Linked DNA regions of Homo sapiens. The protein of the gene in region 3 purifies or fractionates together with the protein of the main gene of each other region. This does not show direct contact. Each region holds a gene or a part of one and is shown on either strand. Other genes may lie near its edges. The genes, in order: F11, BCAM, PRCC and BRME1.

Evidence for each region.
Region 1: the proteins of PRCC (region 3) and F11 purify together in Homo sapiens (affinity purification with mass spectrometry; 2 studies listed by BioGRID and IntAct, with this or other methods). This does not show direct contact.
Region 2: the proteins of PRCC (region 3) and BCAM purify together in Homo sapiens (affinity purification with mass spectrometry; 2 studies listed by BioGRID and IntAct, with this or other methods). This does not show direct contact.
Region 4: the proteins of PRCC (region 3) and BRME1 purify together in Homo sapiens (affinity purification with mass spectrometry; 2 studies listed by BioGRID and IntAct, with this or other methods). This does not show direct contact.

The regions. Positions count from the first base shown.
Region 1 is NC_000004.12:186,261,422-186,269,399, reverse strand, and holds the start of F11 (coagulation factor XI isoform 1 preproprotein), read right to left. Parts: upstream 3,212-7,978; 5' UTR 3,105-3,211; intron 2,265-3,104; 5' UTR 2,264-2,264; coding exon 2,209-2,263; intron 1-2,208. UniProt on the Homo sapiens protein: Factor XI triggers the middle phase of the intrinsic pathway of blood coagulation by activating factor IX.
Region 2 is NC_000019.10:44,812,087-44,819,331, reverse strand, and holds part of BCAM (basal cell adhesion molecule isoform 1 precursor), read right to left. Parts: intron 7,170-7,245; coding exon 6,941-7,169; intron 6,855-6,940; coding exon 6,784-6,854; intron 6,083-6,783; coding exon 5,986-6,082; intron 5,895-5,985; coding exon 5,712-5,894; intron 5,181-5,711; coding exon 5,044-5,180; intron 4,729-5,043; coding exon 4,572-4,728; intron 811-4,571; coding exon 695-810; intron 592-694; coding exon 450-591; intron 277-449; coding exon 140-276; intron 1-139. UniProt on the Homo sapiens protein: Transmembrane glycoprotein that functions as both a receptor and an adhesion molecule playing a crucial role in cell adhesion, motility, migration and invasion.
Region 3 is NC_000001.11:156,763,408-156,770,534, reverse strand, and holds the start of PRCC (proline-rich protein PRCC), read right to left. Parts: upstream 3,001-7,127; 5' UTR 2,764-3,000; coding exon 2,296-2,763; intron 1-2,295. UniProt on the Homo sapiens protein: May regulate cell cycle progression through interaction with MAD2L2.
Region 4 is NC_000019.10:13,881,918-13,889,162, forward strand, and holds the end of BRME1 (break repair meiotic recombinase recruitment factor 1), read right to left. Parts: intron 4,139-7,245; coding exon 4,044-4,138; intron 3,578-4,043; coding exon of another isoform or gene 3,202-3,577; exon of another isoform or gene 2,586-3,201; intron 1,484-2,585; coding exon 1,391-1,483; intron 1,036-1,390; coding exon 885-1,035; 3' UTR 431-884; downstream 1-430. UniProt on the Homo sapiens protein: Meiotic recombination factor component of recombination bridges involved in meiotic double-strand break repair.

The DNA.
Region 1 (7,978 bases), on a different chromosome or scaffold from region 3:
CTTTGTATGTATGTACCACACTTTATCCAGTCACCTGTTGATAAACACATGGGCTGCTTCCACCTTTGGGTTAGTGTGAATAATGCTGCTATGAGATGGGTGTACAAGTATATCTGTGTGAGTTCCTGCTTTCCCTTCTTTTTTTTCGGTATGTACCCCGAAGTCACACATCTATTGATTTTTGAATGTTAAATCAACTTTTCATTCCTGGAATAAACCCAACTTTGTCACAATATCACAATGTAATCATCCTTTAATTTTTTTAACAATCTACTGGGTTAAGTTGGATAATATTTTGTTTAGGACATTTGTACATATGTTCATAAGATAAAAGACCTGTGACTTTTTTTCCTCAGAATTTTCCTATCAGATTTTGGTGTCAAGATTACCCTGACCTTATAAAATGGGCTAGAAAGGGGTTATGTTGACCTCTCAAATATGTGTGTCTTCCATTTAATTAATTTCTGCGATTTCTTCTTTCTGCCTTCTAATTTCTTAGCACTTAAGTTGCTATTCTCTATCTTCTTGTCATCTTATATCATTAATTTTTCCCTTTTCTGTATTCTAATGTATACATGTAAATCTATACATTTGATCTCAACACTGATTCGGTTACATCTCAAAGTTTTGATATACTGTACTTTCATTATTGTACAATTCCTTTTCTAATTACCATTGTGATTTCATCTCTGATTCATCTTAATCTAAAAAGGTATAAATACTCAATTTTCAAACATTTGCAGATTTTCAATTCCCTTTTTATTATTATTCTAGCTCCCATTCACGGTGATTATAAATACTCAATTTTCAAACGTTTGCAGATTTTCAATTCCCTTTTTATTATTATTCTAGCTCCCATTCACGGTGATTGAATAACATGATCAGTATAATTTTAACCCCTTAAAATTTGTTGAGCCTTGTTTCAGAGGCTTGTGTGTGGTCAATATTTGTAAATGTTCCATGTGCATGTATAAAGGACCTAAATATGTACACTATCATTCCTTGATATCTATGAGGGATTGGCTGCCAGACCTCCTGCAGATACCAAAATCCATGAACGCTCAAGTCCCTGATAGAAAATGGCATAGTATTTACATATAACCTACTCACAGCCTCCTGTGTACTTTAAATCATCTCTAGATTACTTATAATACCTAGTACAATGTAAATACTATGCAAATTGTTGTTATACTGTGTTGTTTCGGGAATAATGACAAGAAAAAACTCTGCACATGTTGAGTGCAGATATAATTTTTTTTAAAAAATTTCACTTCAATGTTGTTTAAATCCATGGATGTGGAACCCCTGATTCAGGGTCAATTGTTTATGTAGTTATTGGGTCCAGTGTTCAAAATATATCAAATTATTTAGCGCTGACATATTTATCAATGAAATAACAATACAATTTCCAGATAATTATAACAAAGGAATATTATAACCTGAGCAGTAGTCTTGTCACAGAGAAAATTGAAATTATGAGCTGTGTAATTTAATATATTAAGTGGAATTTACTTTTAATATCTTCACCTAGGTTTGCCTTTTTTCACATAGGCCAGCAAAAAGAATTTACTATGCTTAAAATGCTAGCAATAGTATCAGAAATTAAATATAACATGTAGACATAAGCTATTTTTCTAAAGGAATGCTTCAGCTTTCATTTTAAATAAAGAATGGTCATGGAACTAAACAATACCTGTACTGATATATCCTACTTAATATTGGCTAAGTAATTTATAAACAAATTTAGCAGATGTGACATAGGGTGGAGAATTAACAGGGTAGTTAAATTATTGAAATGCATAAACTGTGTATGAATAGTTACATAACATTTTTCAGTACAAAATTCCTATTTTATGTGTGTGTGTATGTTCCATTGAACTGACTGCTTTATGAAAAACCAACTAATTAGTGAGGCAAATCAAGATTTCTTCTTTTTAATATTGCTTTTAAATATCATTTAAATGAATGATGTATGTAGGCATGGATGTAGATATGGTACACATATAGACACAGATTCCTACCAGTACAAACAATTTTTTCACCTCAATTCCTACCCTGCTTTGAAAACCTCTGGAGCCTCAGGCAGGAAGTTAATAAAAACATTTTATTTCCTTCCCGGCATAAATGGTGTGGGATTCTCCCACATGTGTGGAGATTGCAGTGTGATTTCCCTCTCCCAGCCCATAGTTAAGATAACACTCTACTTACCACCAGAAACTGAAGTAAATAAAATGAAATGTACCACTTGATATAAGAAAATCATCCTACAATGAGAAAAAGGTGCATGCTTTTAGAACATAAAATGTAAATTTATAATTAGTTTACTGACACTAAGACTTACAAGAAATAGGGAGAGAGGGGAGTAGTTAATTCAATAGCATTCACAGTGTTCTCATTATAATGTTGAATTTTCTTTCCCAATCCTGGAGCATTCCTTAGTGTGACTGTGTGTGGCATTCAACTCTTACAGCTCTGCAGAAGCCGGAACCCACAGGGAAGCAGCGCTCTCCCCTCCTCCCTCCTTCCCCGCCGGCCCCGCCGCTCTCTGTGTTCAGATCCTTCTCATGGCCACCATCTGACCGCTCTCCCCACCCCAATTTTTCATCTTTGTTTCCTTTCCCAATTTTTTTCCTTTCTTTCTTTCCTTGAGGCCTCTCCCTATATCTTTCAAAGAGCTATGAATGATTTCCTACTTAGAAAATTTTCTATTTAAAAAAGTCTGTGGCTGATACATTAATCGATTGTCTTGGTCACCTATAAATCTATTTATCTCCAGTAAGCATTAAACAGACTGCTCTAGGAAAAACGGAGTCATCAGTGAGACAAATCAAGACTTCTGATTTTTCAGTACTGCATTTGGATGTCTTTTTAACTCGTAAAACGCTTGTTACTGAGTAGACACTGTTACTCTTCTGTTGTTCCACATTTCCTCTCAGATTAGTTATGGATATTAGCGGAACATCTCTACAAAGCTAAATCAGACACATTTTAAAAATCAATCATTCTCTATTGTAAAGTGTTTTTAAATTCCTATGATTTAAAAAAAGCATTTCAAGGCGTATTTGCTTGAGAGGAATGTTAAATAGTAAGTTCTGAAACTGTACCTGAAAAGACCTTGTTGGCTTACTTGCTGCAATTCTTAATAAGGGTGCTTTTCTTCCTCCAAAATGGTCTTCATCCTCCTCTGAATGAGCTTGTGTAGGAAATGGTCACTTCACTTTAATATTTACTTGTACTAGTTCTCAATGTTATGTAACATTCTCTCTCAGTACAGCATATTTGTGAAAGTCGTTAAAATCTTAGTATGTCAGAAATATACCTTGAGAGAATTGCTTGCTTTCTCAATACACTGAATTTATTTTTTTAATTTTATTTCGTATTCAAACAAGTGACATACACAGGGACAGATGTAGAACTTGATTTTGCCTGTGTGCCTGCTAGCCAAAGCTGCATTTAACCACACTTTCACCTGTCAGCTGTTAACCATTAATTCTAGCTGACCTTGAATCTCAAAGTCTAAAAAGAAAACATGGAAAGTCTAATGGATTCATTGATTTGCAATATAATGGAGGGAGGAGACTTTGGCTGCTGGGGGAGAGCGGACGGATGGGAAGCAAAGTACAGACAGCTCCTAAGAGCCTGGCTCTTGCCCAGTCAGTTTCCCTTCAGGTGACGCTGCCTCTCAGAGGCCTAAGCAGATAGGATTCCTCCTAAGGCCAAGCTTTTTTTTTTTTTATTCTTACTTGTGAACACTAAAAGTCTATTTTTTAAAACAGAAAAATAAGCTATTTCAGCTTGCTTGCTTCTTACTTTCTTTCTTTTCTTTCTTTCTTCTTTCTTTCTTTCTTTTCTTTCTTTCTTTCTTTCTCTCTTTCTTTCTTTCTTTTGAGACAGAGTCTCTCGTCGCACAGGCTGGAGTGCAATGACGCGATCTCAGCTCACTGCAACCTCCGCCTTCCAGGTTCAAGTGATTGTCCTGCCTCCGCCTCCGGAGTAGCTGGGACTACAGGCCCGCGCCACCACGCCCAGCTTATTTTTTTTTCTTTTTTCTTTTCTTTTTTTGTATTTTTAGTAGAGACAGGGTTTCACCATGCTGGTCAGACTGGTCTCAAACTCCTGATCTCCAGTGATCCGCCAGCCTCAGCCTCCCAAAATGCTGGGATGACAGGCATGAGCCACCACGCCCGGCTTCTTTTAGCTTTCTTTAGGTCCTGGGACACAGACCCGAATGGAGAGCTAGGAAGTGACATGTCTAGCAGCTGCATGACTGTCAACGAAAGCACAGCACGTCACATCCCTGAAGGAAAGGGTGGTTTTGTCCTGGAGGGAGTCTTCCCACTGGACAGTGGGAAGTGGGACACTGGACAGTGGTAGGACCTGGCGTTTATAGGCAGGAAAGTTTGTGAAAAAATTCTGGGGTGTTTCACATAATTATATTTCCATGAAGGCCTTCCCTTTGGCCTTGAAGAAGGTCTGAAAGCCTATGGAGGGCATGTTCATCCATGCCAACTGCTACCCAGACCTACTCACTGGCTGACGAGTCATGTGACTTGAGCGGAACCAGCCTGTGCACAGTCCCCAGCCACCTGCAGGTCCTTGGCTTCCGTTTCCTCATTTAGAACACAAGGCACTAACTAGTGCTGAGGGTTTCTGTGCGGTCCCCTAAAAAACCTCACAACACGAACACAAAACAGTTTTCAATATGCCTGATTTGAATACATTTTGGAGAAAGATACGTTTATGGTTCAGAGAAGGCTCTCAATTTTTCATAGAAAAGCAAAATACGATCTTGTGTTTATACATGGAATCATAATTTAAAAAACATATTTGGAAGACCGGGGAGAAATGACAGGGAATTAAGAGAATGTGAACTGAGAACAGATCTTTTTGTAAAGTGCTGAAGAACTAGGGTGATGTTCTATCTGGAAGGCATTTACTCAGATATTTTTATTTGATCTATTGCCAGTGCATTTGACTTATCCTGGCATAAAGAGTTCCTAGCTGTTTTCTTGAGTTTCCCGTTTAAAGTACATTCCAGCTACCCAAAAAGTGCATATTTATGATGCATTGCCTTTTATGAGGCTCAAACATAGAATGGCAAATTCGTGCCAAGAATGGCTTTCATGGAAAATGGATACGTGAGATTATATGAGGTCCTTATATCCTTGTATTGTTTACTCCATGGAACCTCATCTCTCTTCTTAAGCCCCAATAAAAAGAAGATAAGGATAACTCTCCAACCCTATTGAGAGAAACAGAAAGGCTCTAAATAAGAGAAATGCTTCACTGGAAAACCAAATAATATTTTCCTAAGTTTGATTTAGCTAGTTAGTGAAATCTTTAAGGTCTTTGAAATAGTATCAGGATTCAAAAAAATTTTGTCTATTCAAATAAAAGTAGAATAATTTTTTTTCAGACAAGGTCTCACTCCTGTCGCCCAGACGAGAGTACAGTGGTGTGATCTCCACTCAACGCAGCCACCAGGTGATCCTCCCACCTCAGCCTCCTGAATAGCTAGGAATACAGCCGCATGTCACTCCGCATGGCTAATTGTTGTATTTTTTGTAGAGACAGGGTTTTGCTGTGTTCCCCAAGCTGGTCTGGAATGCCTGGGCACAAGCGATCCACCTGCCTTGGCCTCCCAAGTGCTGGAATTACAGGCATGAGCCACCGTGCCCAGCCTAGAATAAAAGTCTTGACTACATAGAAACTCTTTGAGATTAAATAGACCTTTCTTTTAAACTGACCATAGATATCCTTAAAAAATTATTTTCAACTAATGCATTGCAGTTTAAAATTCTGATATCAACTACTTTTTTCAATTTTTTTTCAATGAAATGAAATGTTTTTGAATATTCGAAGACTGATGAAAATGAGGAATAACTAGACAAAGTCTTAGGAAGAATATAGAAGTTAGTCTGCAGAGACCCAAGTACAAGTCAGAAGTTAGGATTCTAAATCAAAAAGTATCTGAGACAGGTCCCAATCAATTTAGAAAGTTTATTTTGCCAAGGATAAGGATGTACCTATGACACAGCCTCATGAGGTCCTGATGACATGTGTCCAAGGTGGTCAGGGCCCAAGCTGATTTTGTACATTTTAGGGAGATATAAGACATCAATCAATCTATGCAAGATGTACATTGGTTTGGTCCTAAAAGGTGGGACAACTCGAAGAAGGGAAGGGGGCTTCCAGGTCATAGGTAGATAAGAGACAAACAGAAGCATTTTTTCGAGTTTCCAATTAGCCTTTCACCAAATACGCAATTTACAAGAATAGTCACTCATGCCTTAGTGTGGCCCAGTGAAACAATATGGCAAACGAGGCAATCAGATACGCACCTGTCTCATGTCAGCAGAGGGGTGACTCTGACTTCTGCCTGTCCTTTTTCCACAAGGAATTTCCTCATGGGCAAATTGTGAGGAATGTAGCTTTTTAAAACCTTTTTAAAGCTTAAAAAAGGTTTTTTATAGCTTAAGAAAGCTATTTTATTTAGGAATAGAATGGGAGGAAGGTTTGCCCAATGCAGTTCCCAGCTTTACTTTTCCATGTGGCTTAGTGATTTTGGGGGTCCCGAGGTTTGTTTTCTTTCCAATGGATCATAGGTGGGAGATGTATTGGACATTTGGACATATTGTGACCTAAAGCCTTCTGCTTGGGACAGGAATGTCCACAACGGCATTAGTTGACTGAGACCCCTTCTCAGGCATGGCCATAATCAACTCTCAGAGCTCCTTCTCTTGTCTTTCAGAACTTGCTTTGAAAATGGACACAATAAAAAAGAAGGAAATCATTCCATTTGCAGCAATGTGGATGGAACTGGAGGTCATTATGTTAAGTAAAGTAAGCCAAGCACAGAAAGACAAACATTGCATGATCCCACGAAAGATGATTTCATGGCCGTAGAGAGTATATGGTGGTTACGAGAGGCTGGGAAGGGTGTGTGTGGGGGGGTGGTGGTGAGGACGAAGAGAGGTTGGTGAAGGGGTACAACCACAGAGTTAGATAGAAGGAATGCTTTCTAATGTTTGACAGAAGAGTAGGGTGACTGCAGTCAACAACAAGGTATTATAGTTTTCTAAATAGCTAGAAAAGGACTTGAAATGTACTCAACACATAGAAATGGTTGGGTGATGGGTATGCCAACATCCTGACTTGATCATTACACATTCTATGCACATAACACAATTTCACATGTGCCCCACAAATATGTACAAATAGAATGTATCAAAAAGTAAAAAATAAAGGAAGAGAAAGGGCACAGCCCGCCATGTCCTACAACCCCTTTCTTGCTGTTCCTGAAATGTCCTCTTTTGTTTTTCTTTTTCTTTTTTTTTTTTTTTTTTTTTGAGACGGAGTCTCGCTCTGTCGCCCAGGCTGGAGTGCAGTGGTGTGATCTCGGCTCACTGCAAGCTCCACCTCCCGGGTTCACGCCATTCTCCTGCCTCAACCTCCCGAGTAGCTGGGACTGCAGGTGCCTGCCACCACGCCCGGCTAATTTTTTTTTTTTGTATTTTAAGTAGAGACGGGGTTTCACCGTGTTAGCCAGGATAGTCTCGATCTCCTGATCTCGCGATCCGCCCACCTCAGCCTCCCAAAGTGCTGGGATTCCAGGCGTGAGCCACCGCGCCCGGCCGAAATGTCCTCTTTTCATTACAAGGTTTTAATGCTGACATGAGATCAGGCTTTCCCAACCCTGGCATTATTGATATTGGGGCAGGATAACTCTCTCTTGCGAGGGGCTGTCCCACACACTGCAGGATGTTTAGCTGCATCCCTGGCCTCTACCCACTACAGCCAGTTGCATACCCTCTCCCATTAGGACAACCAAAAGTGTCTCTAGACGTTGCCGAATGTTTCCTGAGGTGAAGGGAGGACAAAATCGCTCCGGGCAGAGAAACACCAGTGTCAGTTGATAATGAAAATAACAAATGGTGGTTATAAATGCTCTGTCATCTTTCATCCTTCTCCTAGTGAG
Region 2 (7,245 bases), on a different chromosome or scaffold from region 3:
ATCAGGCCCCGGCTGGTGGGGTCAAGGGGTGGGGTCAAGGGCAGAGGTGAACGACGTCCAGTCTCCCAGGAAGTGGAAAGGAGGGTGTGATACTTGGATGAGTGAGAGGGGGCTCAGGGTGGAGAGGAAGGTCCCTTACGCTGCCCCCCAATTGGCTCCAGCTGAGTTTGGGGTCTGGATGGCCGCGGGCAGAGCAGATGAGTGTGACTTCGTCTCCTTCCCTCCAGCTGCCATCTGCCTTGGGCTCTATTTCCGCTGTCTTTAGCTCTGGCGAGCCTGTGGGTGGTGGGGATGGGAAGAAAGTGAAGGGAGAGGAGAGAGAGAGAGAAGAGAGGCATCGAGCAGAAGATGGAGTCCCCAGCCAGGGACTCAGGAACTCGTCCTGTTTGTCCAGGTCCCACACCCCACACTGTCCCCATCCAAGCCCACCCCCTCCCTGCCCCCTGAACCTTGGACCAGCAGCGTGAAGTTCTGGGTGCGGCTGAGGACCGGGACTGTGGGCAGGGAGGCCTCACATACGTAGGTGCCATTGGAATCGAAGGTGATAGAACTGAGCGACAGCATGGGGCCATCGCCCAGGGGAGTGGAGTCCTGGGAAGGGCAGAGGAGGAGGAGGACGCTGTGAGAGGGCGAGGAGTGAGGGGAGAGAGGAGGGTGCGAGTGCAGGGCCCGAGGGGGCTCCTCTCCCTCTCACCTTGGTCCAGCGTAGGGCAGGGGTGGGCAGGCCGTGCACGGAGCAGTTCACGACTGCACTGCTGTTTAGAGGTAAGGAAAGCACCTTCCCCTCGCTGAGCTCCAGGGGGTCCAGATCTGCAGTGGGGGACAGTCTGTCACTCGTCCCAGACCGCCACCCACTCAATTAGGGGCTCTCCAGGGGCGGTCGGGGGTGCAAACATGAATGGACAGTTGGAAGCAGAGAACAGCAAGTAATCCTCCTGGTTTACCCCATCTCCATGAAATCTCCATTCTCCCATCCAGGCTCTCCAACCAAAAATCTAGCAGTCTAACCCCAACATTGACATGCCCAAGTCAATTACTTTTCTTCAGAGCTGACATCTGAGCCCAAGGTTAATGAATAACCTTAGGTGTGGAAGGTGTCCCTTCTGTGACTTTAGCACACAAACCTTTTGCTCAAACCCCAACCTGTGGGGTAACCTCCCTGTTACCCCCAAACATCTTTTCTGCAAAGTTTTGTTTTTGAATAGAGACAAGGTGTTGCTATGTTGGCCAGGCTGGGTCTCAAACTCCTGGCCTCAAGTGATCCTCCTGTCTTGACCTCCCAAAAGTGCTAGGATCACAGGCGTGAGCCCCTGCTCCTGGCCTCAGCAAGTCTTTATCTGGTCTGCTCCCAGGACAAATCCTCTGGCTTCCTGCCACCTCTGGCCCCAGGTTTGACTGTCCCAACCACCTCTTCACTAGCCTGCTCCTCCCTCTTGTCCATCCTCCACTGAGCAGCTAGAGGGACCTCTTTAAAACATCCACTGGTCAGGCCGGGCACGGTGGCTCATGCCTATAACCCCAGCACTTTGGGAGGCCGAGGCGGGTGCATCACCTGATGTCAGGAGTTCGAGACCACCCTGGTCACATGGTGAAACCCCATCTCTACTAAAAATCCAAAAGCTAGCTGGGCATAGTGGTGCATGCCTATAGTCCCAGCTACTTGGGAGGCTGAGGCAGGAGAATCGCTTGAACCTGGGAGGTGGAGGTTGCAGTGAGCCGAGATTGTGCCACTGCGCTCCAGCCTGGGTGACAGAGTGAGACTCTGACTCAAAAAAAAAAAAACAAAAAAAACCAACCACCCACTGGTCATCCCTCCCCTCTGCATAAAACCCTGCAGTGGCTCCCCAGTACCCTTGGCATCGAGGCCAAACTTCTTGAGGGTGCCTAAAAGATGCTGCCTGGTCTGGCCCTCACCCACCTCTTGAACCATCTCCCACTCTTCCCCATTCCTCCTGTGCTCCCAGCTACCCCGTTCTCTTGCTGTTTTTCTTGAGTAGACCAAGTTGGGGCCTGCCTCAGGGCCTTTGCACTTGCTCACTCTACTTGCAGTGCTCTTTTTGTAGCTCTCTGCATTTCTTCTTCTTATTATTTTTTTTTGAGAGAGTTTGGCTCTGTCGCCCAGGCTAGAGTGCAGTGGCGGGATCTCAGCTCACTGCAAGCTCTGCCTCCTGGGTTCATGCCATTCTCCTGCCTCAGCCTCCCGAGTACCTGGGACTACAGGCACCTGCCACCACGCCCAGCTAATTTTTTGTATTTTTAGTAGAGACGGGATTTCACCGTGTTAGCCAGGATGGTCTCAAACTCCTGACCTCATGATCTGCCCGCCTCTGCCTCCCAAAAGTGCTGGGATTACAGGTGTGAGCCACCGTGCCCGGCCAATTTCTTTTTTCTTTGAGACAGACTCTTGCTCTGTCACCCAGGCTGGAGTTCAGTGGCACGATCTCAGCTCACTGCAACCTCCGCCTCCCAGGATCAAGCGATTCTCCTGCCTCAGTCTCCTGGGTAGCTGGGATTACAGGCACCAGCCATCATGCCTGGCTAATTTTTATATTTTTAGTAGAGATGGGGTTTCACCATGTTGGCCAGGCTGGTCTCGAACTCCTGACCTCAGGTGATCCACCTGCCTCGGCCTCCCAAAGTGCTGGGATTACAGGTGTGAGCCACTGTGCCTGGCTGCTGTCTGCTTTTCTGAGTCTCACTTAAATGTCTCTTCTCAGAGGCTTCCCTGACCTCCCCTATTGTGGACACCCAGATCTTTCCTACAGCACGGAAGGACTTATTCCACCAGCTGCTAAGAAGGATGACAGCTGTCAGCCTGCAGCTGTCACCCCTCTCTGGGAGCTGCCTCAGCTGCTGAGAGCCCCTTGCCTAAGGCCAGCACACCTCTGAGGACTGGTTGATGTAGAGGTTATTAAGGCCCAGCCCCCTCACCCCAACTGGGGACAACTGTGAAGGGCCATCCTGGATTCCAAGTACCCCGTGGGGCTGACTGAGGCCCTCTTTCTTTCTTTTATTTGTTTCTGAGATGGAGTCTCACTCTGTTGCCCAGGCTGGAGTGCAATGGCACGATCTCAGTTCACTGCAATCTCCGCTTCCTGGGTTCAAGCGATTCTCCTGCCTCAGGCTCCTGAGTGGCTGGGATTACAGGTGCATGCCACCACACCCGGCTAACTTTTAGTACAGAGGGGGTTTCACTATGTTGGCCAGGCTGGTCTCTAACTCCTGACCTCAGGTGATCCACCCACCTCGGCCTCCCAAAGTGTTGGGATTACAGGCATGAGCCACGGGGCCCGGCCTACTTTTTTATTTTTATTTTTCCTGAGACGGGGTCTTTCTCTGTCGCTCAGGCTGGAGTGCAGTGGCACAATCTTGGCTCACTGCAGTTTCAACCTTCCAGACTCAAGGGATCCTCCCACCTGGGCCTCCGAGTAGCTGGGACTACAGGTGTGTGCCACTATGCCTGGCTAATTTTTAATTTGTGTGTGTGTGTGTGCAAATGGGGTCTCCCTCTGTTGCCCAGGCTGGCCTCAAACTCCTAGGCTCATACAATCCTCCTGCCTCAGCCTCTCAAAGTGCTGGGATTATAGGCATGAACCACTGCACCCAGCCTGAGACCTTCCTTAGACTTCAGTCCAACTTCTCACCTTGCCAAATCTTGCTTCCTTTACCTCCCTAGACCCAAGAGGTGCGGAACCCAGGGTACTTCCCATAAACTTCTTGCCTGAAAACATCCAAGTCAGAATCTGCTTCTCAGGAAAGCAGACTGCAACACCTGCCACCTAAAATAATCCCCTCTCCTGCTCTCTCTCACTGGTGATATCACCTGTAGATACACTACTGTTACGAAAGGGCTTAGTTAGCATTTACCATCTGTCTCCCCTACTGAAATAACAGGGGTGGTCTGTCTTGTTCACAGATGTGTCCCCAGCATCTGGCGCAGGGTCTACCCCAGGAAGGGATATGTAAGAAGTGCCAAGGGAGAATACAGCCTTTCCCCAGGGCCTGGATGCGAATGAACTGAAAATCATTCTTAGAAGCCTGGGATTCAAGGGATTGGTGAGAAATAGACGGTAGGAAGGATGGGCAGTGAAGGTAGGAACCAGAGGAGCCTGGGGGGTGATGAGGAGATAGCCTTGACTGGGGAGAAGGATCAGCTAGCTAATGGTGGAACTGGCCAGGTGGACCTTGAAGGCCATGGTGAGACACCTGGGCTTCTCCCAAGGGTACTGGGGAGCCATGGCAGATTCTGAGCAGAGGAGGGTCAGGTCTGTGCTATGGAAAGAGCTCTCGACAAGATGCGGTGGCTCACTCCTGTAATCCCAGCACTTTGGGAGAGCAAGGCAGGAGGATCGCATGAGGAGTTCGAGACCAGCCTGGGCAACGTAGCCAGGTCCTGTCTCTGGGAAAAAAAAAAAAAAAAAAACAACCAAAAAAACCCCCAAGAAATGCAGAGAAAGGGTTGAAGGCAGAGTGTTTGGGATGACAGAGCAACTTCAGGGCTGTAGGGAGGAGGGCGCAGAGGCACTGATGCCAGGGCCCCTCCTGCCCGCCCGTTCACCCAGGGCTCTCACAGGCCACGCGCAGCTCCAGCGTCTTGGAGAGCTGCACGTCATCTGCCGCGTCGTAATCCTCCACTCTGCAGCCATAGGTCCCGCTCTGGCCCCGGGTCACTCCCTCCAGGGTCAAGTTCCCCTCGAGATTCACATTCAGCACTTCCTCCTGCTCATCCTGGGAGACGGGGGACGAGGAACCAGGCTCAGAAGCCACCCCGGTTCAGCGGGCTCATGCTAGGTCAGAAGCCACCAGGTTAGTGTCATGCTAAGCCAGAATCAGGGGTCAGGGGCCATCAAGTCAGGTGGCATGCTAAGTCCTGACTCTCTCAAATCAGGGGTCAGAGGTCCTTTTAGTTCGTGGGCCACCAGATCAGGTGGCTGCCTAAGCCATGGGGACTCCCAGGTCCCACATTAGAAGTTATGCAGGTTAGCAGGTCACAGAGGTCAGGGGCTGGGGGGTGGATCCCAGAGGGACCCTTGGGTGGGTCACCTGAAGGCGGAAAAGCGTATACTCCGGGCTGGGGCTGCCGTCCCCCCGGCAGAGCAGCTGGACAGTGTCACCCTCGCGTACCCAGCCTGCTGGGGTGGACGGGCTGCCCACCCAGAACTGCACGTGCTCCGTGGGATCTAAGGGAAGGGCAGGGAGATGGGAATTGTGATCAGGGGAAGGGTCAAGGCTAGAGGACAGGCGAGAGGTCAGCCCTGCATCCCAGGTGAGGGCTATGGCGGGTCAAAGGTTACGGGTCATAGGTTTCAAGCCTCAGGTTCACAATTATTCTGAGTGCCAGAGTTCAGAGGTTGAAATAAACTAAGAGTATAGGTCAAGAGTCAGAGGTCCGTATGGGCGATGGGTCAGTGTGAGACTTGGAGCCAGATGTCATGGGGGGACCCAATTCAGTGTGAGAAGGTGGAAAGCACCATTTAGTCATAAACTTCATGGGGTCCAGGGTGCTAAGTGGAGGTCGGAGGTCAGAGGTCAGGATGGGGCTTGTGCGACCAATTGAGGTCAGAGGTCAGTGGCCAGCACTAGCACATTTTTTTTTAGCATGAAGTAGGGAGGCAGAGGGTCAGAGGGGAGTGTGAAGCCCCCGGGTGGAGGGTCAGGCCTCATGAGGTGTGGAGCCTGAGGTCAGAGGTCAAAGGCCAGCACAGACTCACAGTGCAGGGTGAGGTGGAAGGTGGGGCTGTCCAGGCGGCCGTGGCGGCCCTCGGGCAGGCTGTAGTGGGCGGCGCAGTGGAAGCTGGCGTCTCGGTCATCCTTGCGGAGCCGCAGGTAGAGGGTGCTGGTGAGGGAGAGCAGGCCCGAGGCCTCCCGGACCGTGCGGCTGGTCATGTAGCCCTCTGGGAGAGATCGGGGGAGGTGGCAGTCAGCCAGGCCATAGCCCCGCCACCCACCCCAGCCCACGTCCCGCCGCGCTCCTGCGCTGCTCACCTGGGTTCATCTCTACGGGCACCTCCAGGCGCTGCCCGTTGCGATACCACGTGATCTTGGGGGCCGGGTTCCCGTTCCGGCTGTTGCAGGTGGCGATCTGAGGCAGACACGGGCATGGCCCTGGGCTTGGAGCTGGGACTCTGAAGTCGGGGCTCCTCTCTCAGGAGTTCTCCCCACTCAGACTCATGAGCCGGGCTCCTAACTCCCGACTCTCCCAGGACCCAGGAGTCCAAATTCCTAGTCCCCGACTCAGACTAAAGAGTCCAGGCCTCCAGCACCATCCTCCAGGGACCAAGGATTCTGGGTCCCCCAGCTCTCTCCTTCCTAGGACACAGGAGTCTTCCCCCTCTGCCCTTCCTTTCTTTTTTCTTTTCTTCTTCTTTTTTTTTTTTTTTTTGAGACGGAGTATTGCTCTGTGGCCCAGGCTGGAGTGCAGTGGTGTGATCTTAGCTCACTGTAGCCTCTGCCTTCTGGGTTCGAGTGATTCTCCTGTCTCAGCCTCCCGAGCAGCTGGGATTACAGTTGCACACCAACACACCCAGCTAATTTTTGTATCTTTAGTAGAGACGGGGTTTCATTATGTTGGCCAGGCTGGTCTGGAACTCCTGACCTCAGGTGATCCGCCTGCCTCTGCCTCCCAAAATGCTGGGATTACAGGCATGAGCCACCTCGCCTGGCCTTACCCCTCCTCCTTTATTACCCAGGGGTCCCCAGCCCCTCCTCCCTCAGACCCAGGAGTCCAGGGCCCTGTCCCCTCCTCCTCCAGGACCCTGGGGCCAAGGTCCACCCGAGAGGTACCTCCTGGGCAGAGTCCTCCATCACAGACAGTGTCCCTTTGTTGGGGGAGACCTCAGTGGCCTCTGGCTTTGCTGTGAAAAAGACGTTCACGTCAGGAGCCCCTGCCCTGCGCCCCTCCCTGCCTGCCTCCCTTCGGGGGATGCCCGAGGACACTTACCAAACACGTTGAGCCGCGCAGTGGCCTCAGCAGTGCCTGCCGCCCCTGCCCTCACCACGCACACGTAGTCTCGCTCGTCGCCCACCTGGGCCTCAGCCAGCACCAGGCGCCCCTGGGAGTCCAGCTGGTATGGGGGACTGCGGCCCCGGGTGTCGTGCATTGTGACCTGGAGCTCAGAGCCCTGCATCTCAGCCGAGGCTAGGCGGGGGCGAGCTCCCGAGCGGTCGGTCTGTGGGCGCGGGGCAGGCTCTCAGCTCCGGGTGTCCCAGCGCTCCTCAGTCTCTCTCTCTCTGGGTCCTTTCTCT
Region 3 (7,127 bases):
GGCGTGGTGGCACATGCCTGTAATCCCAGCTACTCGGGAGGCTGATGCAGGAGAATCGCTTGAACCCTGGAGGCGGAGGTTGCGGTGAGCTGAGATTGTGCCATTGCACTCCAGCCTGGGCAACAGGAGCGAAACTACATCTCAAAAGATAAATAAAGACAAAGGTTACCCTCACCTGACCATCTTGAACATTCTTAGGCTACCTTTCTGCAGGAATTATGTGTTCCGAGAACCAAAAGACCAACTTGAACAGAACAAAAATGGGAAACTCAACCAGCAAGGGCTAGGACTTTAATTAGCCATGTTACTGTTCACCTCAGAAATTTAGTGAATGCTTACAAAGGAGGGAGTGTTAGTCTTCAGAGTTTTCTGCCACCTCAGCCAACCCAAATGGCAGATTCTACGGCCTCTCCCAACTTTCTATAATGCTACCTTCACAGAGCTAGAAATGAGCTTTCCATGTCCATGTAGACTGTTTTTATTTGTCTCATTCAGGGATCTTTCCTTGTTCCAGGTTAAATCAAAGCCAAAGTAAGTTTCCATGGAGCAATAAAAGGCTTTTTTTTTTTGGATCCTAGACTTAGGATGAGAGACTCTCAGGTGTGAAAGAAGGGGGAAATAAAATGGAAGAAAGTGGCCGGGTGCTGCGGCTCACGCCTGTAATCCCAGCACTTTGGGAGGCTGAGGCGGGTGGATCACGAGGTCAGGAGATCGAGACCATCCTGGCTAACATGGTGAAACCCCGTCTCTACTAAAAACACAAAAAAATTAGCCAGGCGTGGCGGCGGGCGCCTGTAGTCCCAGCTACTCGAGAGGCTGAGGCAGGAGAATGGCGTGAACCCGGGAGGCGGAGCTTGCAGTGAGCAGAGATCGTGCCACTGCACTGCAGCCTGGGCTACAGAGGGAGACTCCGTCTCAAAAAAAATAAAAATAAAAAAAATTTAAAAAAAAAAGGAAGAAAGTTTCAAACAAGATTGGGAGGGAAACTCTGGAAACTCCTTCCATGAAAAATCCATATTGGAGTTCTTTCACTCACAAAATATCCATGGGAGTATTCAGTATGTGCCAGGCACTGTTTTAAGTACTAGGGTTATAGCAGTGAATTTTTTTTTTAATCCCTGCCTTCATGGAGTTTATATACTAGTGGGAGGACAGATGATGTTAAGTGCAATGGAGAAAAATAAAACAAAGAGCAATGGGGAGGAGGAGGTGATAGGAGGTTGCAATTTAAATACATAGTAGGCTAGGGAAGTCCTCACCGAAAACAGGCCTTTTAGGCCAAGTGAGGTGAGGGAGAGAACATTAGGATATCTGAGAGAAGAAATTTAAGGAACAGCAAGTTCAACGAATGGAAATGGCTCCTAGGCAGAGCTGGGAGTCTGAAGAAAAGCAAGGGCAATAAATTTCTCTCCGGTAAGTAATTCTAAGCAGTTCCTGCTCCAAGGCTTAATCTCTCCTTTATCTCCAAAGCCCTCACTCCAGGAGCCTTGTATTTTTCCACTGTCACATATAGAAACAGGTAAGACTCGCTGCCTCTTCTAGAAACAGTACCCAAGCATCCTAACTCACCTAGCTTTGACCATAGCTAAATGATGAATATGAGGCACAGATCTGAGGTTCAGAGAGACTGAACCTTAATCTTAATCTTCACTCTGCCCTGTTACCAGGTAAAATCGTGCATGCTGGACACCTGTTTCTCATCTGTAAAACAATAGTATGTTACCTCCCAGAGCTCTGTAATAATTGAAAGAAAGGACCAATGAACGGCAAATGATCTGCACTAAACAAATATTCGATTTCTCCTCTAACTCCCCTCAAAAATAGAAACCAAGATTGCTATCATTTTCCTCCAGGCCTGATGCTTTTGAGTTCAGAGGCAAGGAAAAGATTTGTCCCAGATGTTCGGCAAAGGTTCAGGAGCCCTGTCTCCTGTCATTCTTCAGGTGCCAGATTTCATCCTGTTCTCAGTAGGAGGAAAGGGGAAAAAGCCGGACTGAAGTGAAGATGCAAAGAAGGGGGAGCGGATCCAAGTGTCCCTAGGCCTGTCAGTACCAGGTGATGATGACATGTGGCCTTCTGCAGGCAAGCCCAGCTTCAGGAAACCCACATGGGCAAACACCCAAACTCCCCCAAGTTGACCAACTTCAGCTCAATTAATCGCATTATAAGAGGATTCCAGTGGCCTTGAATCCACGGATGCGTTTGTAGGAAGGAGTTCTGAAATCTCCACATGTCCCTCCTACAGCCGACTCAAACCCGATGGACAGTTTGGGGGTGCCTTCCCCGGATACTCACATCTCCCTTATGCAACTCCGGCGCCGCGATCTTCACGGGCTCTTTCCTCTTCTTTGGCTTGGGAAGCCCCAGCGGGGGACCGGCACCGCCAATTGGAGGGGGCAGATTGAGGCCAGGGCCTCGGGGCGAGGGCAACCCCAATCCCAGTCCCTCCCCAACTCCCGCCGCTTCAGCCGGGCTCACGCCTGGAGGTGGGGGGAAGCCTCCCAGGCCGAAGGGCAAGGGGGGAGGAGGCTGAAGCCTGGGGTCTCCGGTGGGTGGGGGAAGCAACAGCGGCGGGGGAAAGGCTGGCGCCAGCATCTGAGGGGGCGGAGGCAGCAAGGCCGGACCCTTGGGCGCAGGGAGAGAAGCGAACAAGCCCCCTAAAGCGGGCCCAGATGTAGGAGCCACCGCCTCCTCTTCCTCCGGCTCGGGCTCAGCCTCATCCGGCTCGCTCTCATCGCTGCTGGCGTAAGCAACCAGCGACATGGCGCCTCCCGCGTTTCGGGCGCCCTTGCCGGCAGATGAGGCCTACTTGAGACCGGGGATGCCCGGAGGCCTAGTAGGCCCCGCCACCTGGCGGGGCGGGGAACCGAAAAGTCCGCCTGCTCCGTACTCTAGGGCTAGCCCCGGCAGAAACTCATGGCTACGGCTGATTTCCACCGAACAAGGCGTACCTCTTCACTTAAGCTCCTAGTCCCGGGCAACTACACACAGCTAATGGCCGCCGAGTCACTCCGCCTCCTCCTTGCCTCACCAATACAGGAACTACAACTTCCAGAGAACACTTTGGACACAGCCCGGTTCTTTGCCGCAGGGATCTCAGCGCAAGGCACGGCGGGAGTTGGAGTCCGAGGAAGGATTTAGGGGCGAGCAAAGGGAGACAGGAGAGAAACCCGCCTCTGACGCAGGGACACCTGGGGTGAGTAGTTTTTTTCGTCGCCTAACAATTCCGAGGTGACTACAAGCCCCACCGGTCACCACGGCAGTCACTGAGACGGACAGGAGAGCATTTCGGTACTTGAAGTTCCCTAGGGTAGCCCCTTGGCCACTAAGATTTCTGGGAGATATGATGCTCTTAGAAACTGCAAGTGATGTCGGGAACGAAAGGGAGTCTGGGAAGCTGGCGGATTGAGGAAAATTGCTTAAAGGCAAAGTGATCTGTAAATGAACTGGTGAAGCTTCCCAGTCGGCTGGGACTGGGAATTAGAATAAAACATCCCAAAAAGAGCAAGGGCCCAAGGGACCCGTACGAAATTGGGCTGCAAGCCAGAAAGAAGCGAGGCTGCAGGTCTAATAATAAGCATCTAAGAGTTGAAATAAATGTGACGTAAAAGGGAGGAGGTGATCTCCCTCACCAGGATCGGGGTGCACATCCAGGAACACACCTTACCCTGGAGCCTGGGGCCTGGCCTCCCTCTGCAGCAACCAGTGAGACAAAGATGGGCAAGGCTCTGACAATCCGGGCCAGGTACTTGAGGTTAATCCCTTCTCAGCTCAGTGGGGTAAAGGGCGACCGTTCTGAGGAATCACTTGAGTCCGTCCTACCTGGCTGTGCCTCCCACCTATCCATTTGCAGATGTCCTTTACATTCCTTTACGTCTGTGAGTGCTGCTTCTTATGGCTTTGTATGTGACTTTCTTACATCTGTCTCTGTAAGTGCCCTTCCTTTCCATCCATGTTTATAGGAGTCCTTGTCCAGCCCATTTATGTCTGCTTGTGATGATCTGCTGTGCGCCAGTCCTTCCCTGTCCGCTTGTGATTTTGTATCCTTTTCTTGTTTACCCATCTCTGCCCCCTTCCTGTCTGCCTGTGACTGAGTGCCCTCTACTTGTCTGCCCTGTATGTGTGTGTCCTTTACATGCTAATTCATCTCTGTGTGGGCACCACCTCCCTGTTCCCAGATTGCAGAAAATTCTGTTGAGCGAAGCCAGAGAAAAGGCTGTTGAGGTTTTGGGAGGAGGCTGAAGAGAAAATTGGAAAGGTTGATGAGGAGGGACAATGATGACCACAATGCAGAGAGACAGTGAAAGGCCCAAGCTTGAATCCTCTATCAGACGAGCCTGATATGGGGCACCTCCTCCCCAACCTCTCCACCCTTCAGAGACAAACTCCATGCTGCCTTCTCCATGAAGGCTCCTTAGAGCAATCTGTGCTCAAACTTTAATGTGCATAAGCATCACTAGGAAAGCTTCTGAAAAATATAAATTCCTGAAATCTAGCCTAAGAGATTCCTATTCAATAGATGTGGGTTGGGCCTGGAAGCCTGGATCTGTAAGAAACTACTCAGTTAGTTGCAAACCAGGCACTGAGGACCACATTGAGAAACTAGACCATCAAGTCCTACCTCACAGCTAGTATGCCTTGCACAATGTTGATTTCTAAAATCTGCTTTCAAATCTAGGTTCCCCAACGTACTCTCTGGTGACTGTGCGGTCACTTCTCTTCTCTGAGTCTCACTTTCCTCCTTTGAAAAATGGATAAAGTAGGCCGGGTGTGGTGGCTCACGCTTGTAATCCCAGCACTTTGAGAGGCAGAGGCTGGTGAATCACGAGGTCAGGAGTTTGAGACCAGCCTGGCCAAGATGGTGAAACCCCGTCTCTACTAAAAATACAAAAATTAGCATGGTGTGGTGGCGGGCGCCTGTAAGCTCAGCTACTCGTGAGGCTGAGGCAGGAGAATCGTTTGAACCCGGGAGGCAGAGGTTGCAGTAAGCCGAGATCACGCCACTGCATTCCAGCCCAGGCAAGTGTGCAAGACTCCATCTCAAAAAAAAAAAAAAAAAAAAGAAAGAAAGAAAGAAGGAAAGAAGGAAAGAAAGGAAAGAAAGAAAGAGAAAGAAAGAAAGAAAGAAAAATGGATAAAGAAGGTCGGGTGCGGTGGCTCACGCCTATAATCCAAGCATTTTGGGAGGCCGAGGCGGGCAGATCACCTGAGATTGGGACTTCGAGACCAGCCTGACCAACATGGAGAAACCCCGTCTCTACTAAAAATATAAAAATTAGCCGGGTGCGGTGGCGGGCGCCTGTAATCCCAGCTACTCAGGGGGCTGAGGCAGGAGAATCGCTTGAACCCGGGAGGCGGAGGTTGTGGTGAGCCAAGATCACGCCATTGCACTCCAGCCTGGGCAACAAGAGTGAAACTCCGTCTCAAAAAAAAAAAAAAGGGCGGGGGGGGCGCGGATAAAGTATTACAGAGCCCTGTCCTACTTCTGTGAGAAATGCCTGATACTAACACACAGTGAAATGCCTTAGAACTAAGAGAAATGATTGTCCTTGTTGTTTGTCAACACATCTTGCCAGCTTGCAGAGAAGCCCCTAAAGGACAGGGACCTGTCTCAAATGTTTTCTTTCTTCTTCTTTTTTTTTTTTTTTGGAGATAGAGTCTTGTACTGTCGCCCATGCTGGAGTGCAGTGGCGCAAATTTGGCTCACCGCAACCTCCACCTCCCAGCTTCAAGTGATTCTTGTGCCTCAGCCTCCCGAGTAGCTGGGATTACAGGTGTGCACCGCCATGCCCAGCTAATTTTTGTATTTTTTAGTAGAGACGGGGTTTCACCATGTTGGCCAGACTGTGTTTAACAAATGTTTTCTAAGCGAGGATCCCCTTACTGTGAAAATTAATGATTCACCTTATTGGGTATAAATCCTCAAAAAGTGTTTTCAAGCAAGAAATTGATAATAGAAACTTCATGAAAGTGAAGGAAAGGGGATTTATTTCTCATTATGTACCCTTTTATACCTGTAGAAATTTGTAACTGGGCAAGGCCAGGCGCAGTGGCTCACGCCTGTAATCCCAGCACTTTGGGAGGCTGAGGCGGGCGGATCCCCTGAGGTCAGGAGTTCCAGACCAGCCTGCCCAACATGGAGAAACCCTGTCTCTACTAAAAATACAAAAAGCAGCTACTCAGGAGGCTGAGGCAGGAGAATCGCTTGAACCCGGGAGGTGGAGGTTTCAGTGAGCAGAGATCATGCCACTGCACTCCAGCCTGGGTGACAAGAGCAAAACTCCATCTCAAAAGAAAAGAAAAAAAAAGAAATTTTTAACTATGTACGGTGGCTCACGCCTGTAATCCCAGCACTTAAGGAGGCCAAGGTAGGAGAAGCCCTTGAGTCTAAGAGTTGGAGACCAGGCGTGGTGAAACCTTGTCTCTACAAAAACAAACAAACAAACAAACAAAAACAGAAAAAAAGCCGGGCATGGGCATGGTGGCACACACCTGTAGTCCCACCTCATTGGGAAGGGCTGAAAGAGGAGGATCGCTTGAGCCTGCGAGGTTGAGGCTGCAGTGAGCTGAGATCGCACCACTGCACTCCAGCCTGGGTGACAGAGCATGACCCTGTCTCAGTAAAAATTTTAAAGAATAGAAATTTAGGCCAGGCGCGGTAGCTCATGCCTGTAATCCTAACACTTTGGGAGGCCAAGGCAGGTGGATTGCCTGAGCTCAGGAGTTCGAGACCAGCCTGGGCAACACGGTGAAACCCCGTCTCTACTAAAAATACAAAAAAGTTAGCTGGGCGTGGTGGCGTGCACCTGTAGTCCCAGCTACTCGGGAGGCTAAGGCAGGAGAATTGCTTGAATGCGGGAGGCAGAGGCTGCAGTCAGCCAAGATCGCGCCACTGCACTCCAGCCTGGGCAACAGAGCAAGACTCCGTCTCAAAAAAAAAAAAAAAGAAATTTGTAACTGGTACATCTATGAGCCTTTCGAAAGTAATCATAATAAAAGTTTTCCAGTAAAACAGAATGAGGGCCGGACATGGTGGCTCACACCTCTAATCCCAGCACTTTGGGAGGCTGAGGCGGGTGGATCCCAAGGTCAAGAGATCGAGGCCAGCCTGGCCAACATGATGAAAC
Region 4 (7,245 bases), on a different chromosome or scaffold from region 3:
GTAAACTGGGGATGACAGCAGCCCCTGTGGTTGCTAACAGGACTGTCATCTGGCTCGAGAGGCTTGCGTGGGATGAGAAATGCCACGACTTCAGCCATGTTTGCATCCATAACCTCCTGGGATGGCCTCCTTCCTGTCTGGGGCCCACAGGCAGCTTGTCCTGGAGGATGGGCCAAGCCACCGGAGCGCAGGACTCACCCTGCAGCTGGATGATCGCCCAGGGCGTCTCTTAGGCTTCGACCCGCGTGTATGCTCAAGAGCCTGCACACAGATGTGGGCACACAGTCACCCACCCCTGGAGATTCGCCCCCCCCTTGCTTTCCCAGGGAAGCTGAGGCATAAAACTCGTAGAGGGCGAGGAGGAGGAAGTGGGTAGAGAGGTTTGTGGGCGGAAGGTGAAGGAACTGAAGCCTCAGCCCCAAACAGCAGGTCACGGGGCCTCTACAGAATCATTTATTATGGGTCTTCCCAGAAGAAATAAAATGGAAATGGGGAGAAAGAAAACAAAGGGAGCTCTCTTCTCCTCCAGGAAAGAAACAAATTCTGAACCATCCATACTTGGCTCAGGACCCTAAAATTTGCAAATCCGGACAGGATGGGCCCTGCTCAGAGGTGGCCAGCTTCCTGGAGCCCAGGCCCGCTTGAAGTCACTGGGGCTGTGGGAGACACAGTTTCCCTCCCTGAAGCCAAGGGTGGCAAATGACCTTGACCCTGGCCAGGTGAGGCCAGGACCTCACGGCCTCCTTTGTGTTGTCCATGGAAGACCAACTTCCGGGCAACTGAAGGGAGGTTTGTAGGGTCCACTAGGACCCCCTGGAGCATCTTGGAGGAGGTCTGCGGACATGGGGGCTGGGTGGCAAAGGAAACACAGACCTCAAAGTGGCCTACAACTCCCTCCAGGGTGGGTCCCCTCGAGGGATATTCCCAGGCCCCTTGGAAGGGTAAGGCAGGGGGGCTTTGCCTCCCAGCTTTGTCTTCCGGTAGTTAAGGCGCTTGAAAGCTTCCAGGTCCCGGTGGGTGCCCATGATCAGCCGGCTGTGGGGGAAACACAGGCATGCGTGTGGGGCTCAGTGGTCACCAGGTGACAGAGGGGGCCGCGCCTCACAGCCACATGGTCACCAATGACTCAGGTGCACACACACGGCTCACACACGTGCACATAACCAGAAAGGGCCTGTTGTAGCACAGGCTGGGCCTGTTGCAGCCTTTCTTCAGAGCCTGTGTTCTGCAAAGGACGGGGGAGGGGGGCCACGGTGAGGACCCAGCAGCAGTGAGGTGCCTGACCCTCGCTGCCCACCTAGGGGCTTCACACTTCAGTCCCTCCCTGCTCCTCTGAGTCCCCACTGGCCTCCCGCAGACCCTGTGCCGTGAGTCCAAGCCCACCCCGTACTTCAGGTTGGAGAGCTCAACGATGAGGCCACGCACGACGTTGGTGGCATCCTCCATCCTGGAGGCCTCAGAGGCCTGGATCCCCACGAAGGTCCTGGCCAGCAGGGAAGGAAATTGAGAGTGGCCCGACCTCACTGGACTACCAGAGCTCTCCAGTGGGAGGGGCTTCCGCAGGGCCTCGCGCCATCTTTTCCAGGTGTCCAGCCTGTCCTCCTCTGTTCACGACAGAACCCTGATGGCCAACCCAGCTGGCTCCACTGCCCAGCAGGCCCAGAACCCAACCGCTTCTCCCCTACCTGCCCTGCCCTCTCAGGACGCTGCTGCCACCGCCTCCCTATCTCCTGCCCCTGTGGCTTGTCCCCCACAGGCACTGGGGGCTGTGAACTTGGAAACCTAGCTCAGAGGCAAGCCCTCTCCTCCCGCAGCTGTGCACCACCTGCCTGCCCCGTGCCCTCCCCTCATCCCCCGCTTCTCCCCTCCCCTCGGCTCTAGCCACACTAGACTCCTGGCCATTCCTTGAGCACCTCTCAGGATTCTGGAATGTTCTTTCCCAAATGTCTCCTCCTGGTGGTGGCTTCCCTGATTCCTCCTTACATTTTAACCCCTTCTCCGCTGCCTTTTTTTCCCCAACACTCTGCCATCTGACTATCTAATCTGCTGTCTCTCATGTCCCCACACCCCGAATCCCCCAGTAGCATTCAACTCTGTGTTTTGTCCCACACTGCCTCCCCAGCACCCAGGGCAGTGCTAGAAAGGCCAGCCCAGATGGCATTCATATCCTTGGAAGGTTTGGGAGGTCAAGGTGGGAGGATGGCTTGAACCCAGGAATTCAAGACCAGCCTCGGCAATGTAGTGAGACCCCCATCTCTACAAATAATACAAAATTAGCCAGGCATAGTGGTGCGCGCCTGTAGTCCCAGCTACTCAGGAGGATGAAGTGGGAGGATCAGTTGAGCCTGGGAGATGGAGGCTACAGTAAGCTATGATCCTGTACACCAGCCTGGGCAACAGAGCAAGACTCTATCTAAAAAATATCCCGCCAGGCACGATGGCTCATGCCTGTAATCCCACCACTTTGTGAGGCTGAGGCAGGTGGATTACTTGAATCCAGGAGTTTGAGACCAGCCTGGGCAACACGGCAAAATCCCATCTCTAAAAAAAAATATACAAAATTAGCCGGGTGTGGTGGCGGGTACCTGTAATCCCAGCTACTTAGGGGGCTGAAGTGGGAGAATCATGCGAGCCTGGGAGATCGAGGCTGCAGTGAGCTGAGGTTGCACCACTGCACTCCAGCCTGGGTGATGGGAGTAAGACTGTGTCTCAAAAAAAAAAAAAAAATCACGGAAGAGCCAAGGAGCCACAGAACACCTCCCCCACCCCACAGAACAGGTGCCACTCTCAGACACAGGCAGTACAGGTGGCCAGGCGGGTAAGTGGGGGCCACCCGCCCTAAACCCGCCCATGCCCCAGGCTTCGCAGCACCTCCGGGGCTGTCACTATGGAAACTGCTGTCCTGCTGCTCCTGCCTTGGTCACCCTGAGGTGTCTGGCAGCCCCTGGGTCTTAGCCTCTTGTGTGTGTCATTCAGCCTCAAGCCACCAAACCAGACCCGGGGCCCTCTGGGAGCTTCCAGACATCCAGGACGGTGGGGAGGGGAGCTGCATTGGCCCTGGGACGCTGTCGGAGATTCAGATGTGAACCCTCCCGGCTCTTCACTCAAACCACAGCGGGCCGCTCTGATGAACTGCCTCTGGTCCACGTGCAGGTTGTGTGTGTGGCTAAGGGAGGTGGCCAGTGGCACAGCAGGTACAAGTCACAGGGAGTGACGGCAGGAGGCAGGGACAGAGCCGCCCTCTGCTAGGGGAGGAGAAGGAGGAGGAGGGTGTGGGGGCCACACACAGCCAAGGGCTGAGTCCCAAACCCTCCTCCACCCCTGCCAGACAGAAACAGAAACTTGGCCATAAATAATTGATAAGCTGCCGCCTCTGCAGAGAGGCAGGTTCAAGTGCCAGGTAACAGAGAGGGCAGCCACCCAGCGCTGGCTTCGAGGAGGGCTGTGGGAGGGCACGGGAGGAGGGGACAGGCTGCGGAGACCCCGGGCATGGTGCGGGGGAGAGGGTGCCCTCCTCACACACAGCAGGCTGGAGGACGGCTCACTGGTGGCCTGTGGGAGGGAGGAGGTGGTTCGCCTAGGGCAAGAGCCAAGTGGGGAGGGGAGGAGGTGAGGGCAGGTTAGACTCACTCGGGTGCCCGCCTGGTGCCAGAGCTAGGAACAGCTCCAAGATGGTCTCAGCCAACAGTTCTGAGCCCTGTCTGGGTCCCCTCCCCTTCCCAGGGACTCAGGAGGAAGCTTTGGCCCCTCTTCCCAGAGAGAAAGAGCCCACAGAGCCGGAGGCACTGTCCCAGGGCTCCTGGGGAGCTTCTGGGTGGGGAGATGCTGGGTTGGGTGTCGATCACTGGTCACTGTCGCCCATTCTCTGCTTTCGGGGAGCAGGGGAATGTATACAGTTTGAAAGACAGGGCTCAGCTCCCCTGCTGGACTGAGGAAGTCGAGGCCCAGGGAGGGAGAACTGGGGTCTGTCTCCTCCATCTGTCACCCTCCTTGGTAAAATTTGTGAGGGTCCTGGAGCCACTTCTCACCCACGCCACACCTACCTCGGCTGGGCCTTGGCCACTGCAACAGGGTCTCCATTGGCATGTGAGCTGGGGCCCGGCCAGCAAGGGCCCGGCTTGTTCCCCGAAGGAAAGAGCTGGAAAGAGAGCACAAGGTGTGAGTGGTCGAGGCCTGGGTCGGGCAAGCTCTGCACAGGGGAACCAGAAGTCACGCTGATGCTTTTGGCTTCACCGCGGCCACAGCAGGTCACATCGGGGCTGGCTGGGACTCCTGCAGAGGAAGAGCGGTAACGGGGAGGAAATCCACGATGGGTAGACCCGAGGCTACCAGCCTGGGCTGCGCCCGTCCTTTCCCCTTGGAAAGAGAAAGGCCACAGCCAACCCTGGTGTCCGCTCCTAGGCCCGGGCCTCCCACAGGCTGATCTGGGCAGTGGGGGCACCACTGTGCCATGATCTCTGGCCCTGACACCACTGCAGTCTCCTGCATGCCCCTCACTGTCTTTACGGGTACAGAGAAAACACAAAGCGGGGGCAACTGCGGTGAAGTGGAGTCGTCTACCTTGGCTGAATGTGCCACAGACATCCTGTTAGGAAAGGAGTTTGCAAATATAACACGAGGGGAAAACTCCCAGTGAATACAGGGGAAAGCCTGGTAACTCCACGGCGCTTAAGCTTCTAAGCGTCAATGGTGGTTTAATTTCCATGGAAAATGTTAAGCTCCGTTACAGTGGTGACCTATGATGTCCCTCAGAAAAGAGGCAATGAGCCAGGCTGGGGACACCTGTAATCCCAGCACTTTGGAAGGCTGAGGTGGGAGGATTGTTTGAGGCCAAGAGTTCCAGACCAGCCTGGGCAACACGGCGAGACCCTGTCTGTACAAAAAAAAAAAAAAAAAATTAGCTGGGCATGGTGGCACGCACCTGTGGTCCTAGCTACTTGGGAGGCTGAGGCAGGAGGATCAACTGCTTGAGCCCGGGAGGTTGAGGCTGCAGTGAGCTGTGATTGTGCCACTGCACTCCAGCCTGGGCGACAGAGCAAGGCCCTGTCTCTAAAATTTAAATTAAATGACTCCATATGCAGATTGCAGAAGCTCCATCAGTCCAAGAGTGAGTGCAAAGGATCTATGAGAAAGTAACACCAAACCCTCCCATGACGAGACCTTGGTTTGAGGTTTGAAAGCTCTGTCTCTGCTGTGTCACCTCTGAGTCCCCTCCTCTAGCACAGTGTGTGGCCACAGTGAGGTCAGGAGGAGGTGCTGAGACGGCCCGCTCGATCCATCTTTGCTGTTCCCCGTGCCCCTGCCCATGTTGGGAGACACGGGCCTCGGCCTTCCTGCCGGGAGCCACCCGGAACCTTCCCACGGGAATGTGTTCCTTGCCTGGGTCGCCTCAACTTGCTGGGGAACGCCTCGTGTCAAAGCCAAACACGCCCAGGCCCTGGCAGTGCTGTCAGGGCGGTGCCTCCTCCCCTGGCTGGGGAAAGGCTGCTAATGCTGGTCGGGTTTGACCAGCCTGGCTGTCTGTCTGGATCCCCCCAAGTCTGGATTTCAGGGTCTTTTTCCAAGCTTGCAGTTTGGCAGCCCGTTTAGGAGGGCTAGGGGCTTCACCTGCTGGATGCCACCTAGGCACACCTGGCCCCAAACACCTTAACCATTTCCCAGCCTTCTCTCCAAGCCACCACTCACGAGACCACAGACTGGAGGCAATGGAGGCGGCTCTTCTCTCAAGCGAGGGATTTGCATTTTGCAAGGCATGAAGCTCTCATAAAATTTCAGCTGTGCCCAGCACCAGAACTCCTGCCTTTCCCACATGCTCGTGTTCAGCCTCTACCACTGAACCACACTGTGACTCACTTTTTTTTTTTTTTTGAGACAGGGAGTTCAGCACCCAGGCTGGAGTGCAGTGGTGTAATCTCGGCTCACTGCAACCTCAAACTCCTGGGCTCAAGTGATTCTCCTGCCTCAGCCTCCCAAGTAGCTGGGACTGCAGCCATGCATCCCCATGCCTGGCTAATTTTTTCTTTTCTTGAGAGAGTCTTGCTCTCTTGCCCAGGCTGGAGTGCAGTGGCGCGATCTTGGCTCACTGCAACCTCAGTCTCCCAGGTTCAAGTGATTCTTCTGCCTCAGCCTCCGGAGTAGCTGGGATTAGAGGCACACGCCACCATGCCCAGCTAATTTTTGTATTTTGGTAGAGATGGGGCTTCACCATGTTGGCCAGGCTGGTCCTGCTCTCCTGCCTCGGTCTCCCAAAGTCCTGAGATTACAGGTGGGAGCCACTGTGCCTGGCCATGAATTTTTTTTTTTTTTTTTAACATCTCAACACAGGGACAGCCAAAGAAACAGAGGCTGACATTTGAAAAGCAAATTGGACTCTGCGTTCCAGGACGCGGCGGCTGGGGCATGACCTGGGTGCCAGCCTGGCCTCCTCCCCTCCCACCTGCCTCACCTCTAGCAGGCGCACGAACTCCTCCAGAGTCTTCACTGCCACACCCAGTGTGTGGACAGAGAACTGCCTACCTCCCTGGGCGTGACTGTGATGCCCTCAGCCCAGGCTCAGGTGTGCCAACGGCTAGGGAGGTCGCTCTTTCCCTGGGGGGCAGGGCTGAAGCAAGGCTGCCATCTGCCCAGACAGGAGAATGAACGCCAACGGCTGGCACCGGCTCTGGAGCCAGAGGAGGCCACATCCGGGCAGCCGGTGGGGCGGGCAGATCCCTGAAGGAGGCAAAGCCCTTACACGTTCTGGCAGAAAAACAAAATGACTTATGTATGTTTGGAAAAGAATCATATCAGGACCCCCAGAGGACCCTAAGGAGATGGGCAAAGGCTCTTTTGCAGCTTGGGAGTGAAGCCCCCTCCCCAGGCCCAGGTATAAAGCCATCCCCAGGCCCAGCTTCTCTCCATCTGTGTCTACCCGCCTCAATACATCCCCTGGGACCCCACGGCCAGGGTCAGGCACTGAAGCAGAAGCTGCCAGGGGCTGGCACTCCTGGGGACTCCAGTTCAATGTGGGGGGCCCGGCTGAGAAAGCAGCTGTGTGTCACCATCCCTAGATATGTCGACAACCACCAAAAGGCAGGTCTACACTTTCTGGAAAACCACCGACTCCACACCCAGTAGAGCTGCAACTCGGACTCCTATAGTCGTTGGCTGTGTAAATGGTAAGCCCTGAGCCCCAGCTCCCCCTCTGCCACTGCACCGAGTGAGGAGGGGGCTTGTGGAGGTTGGGTGCCTGCCCTGGGCAGGTAT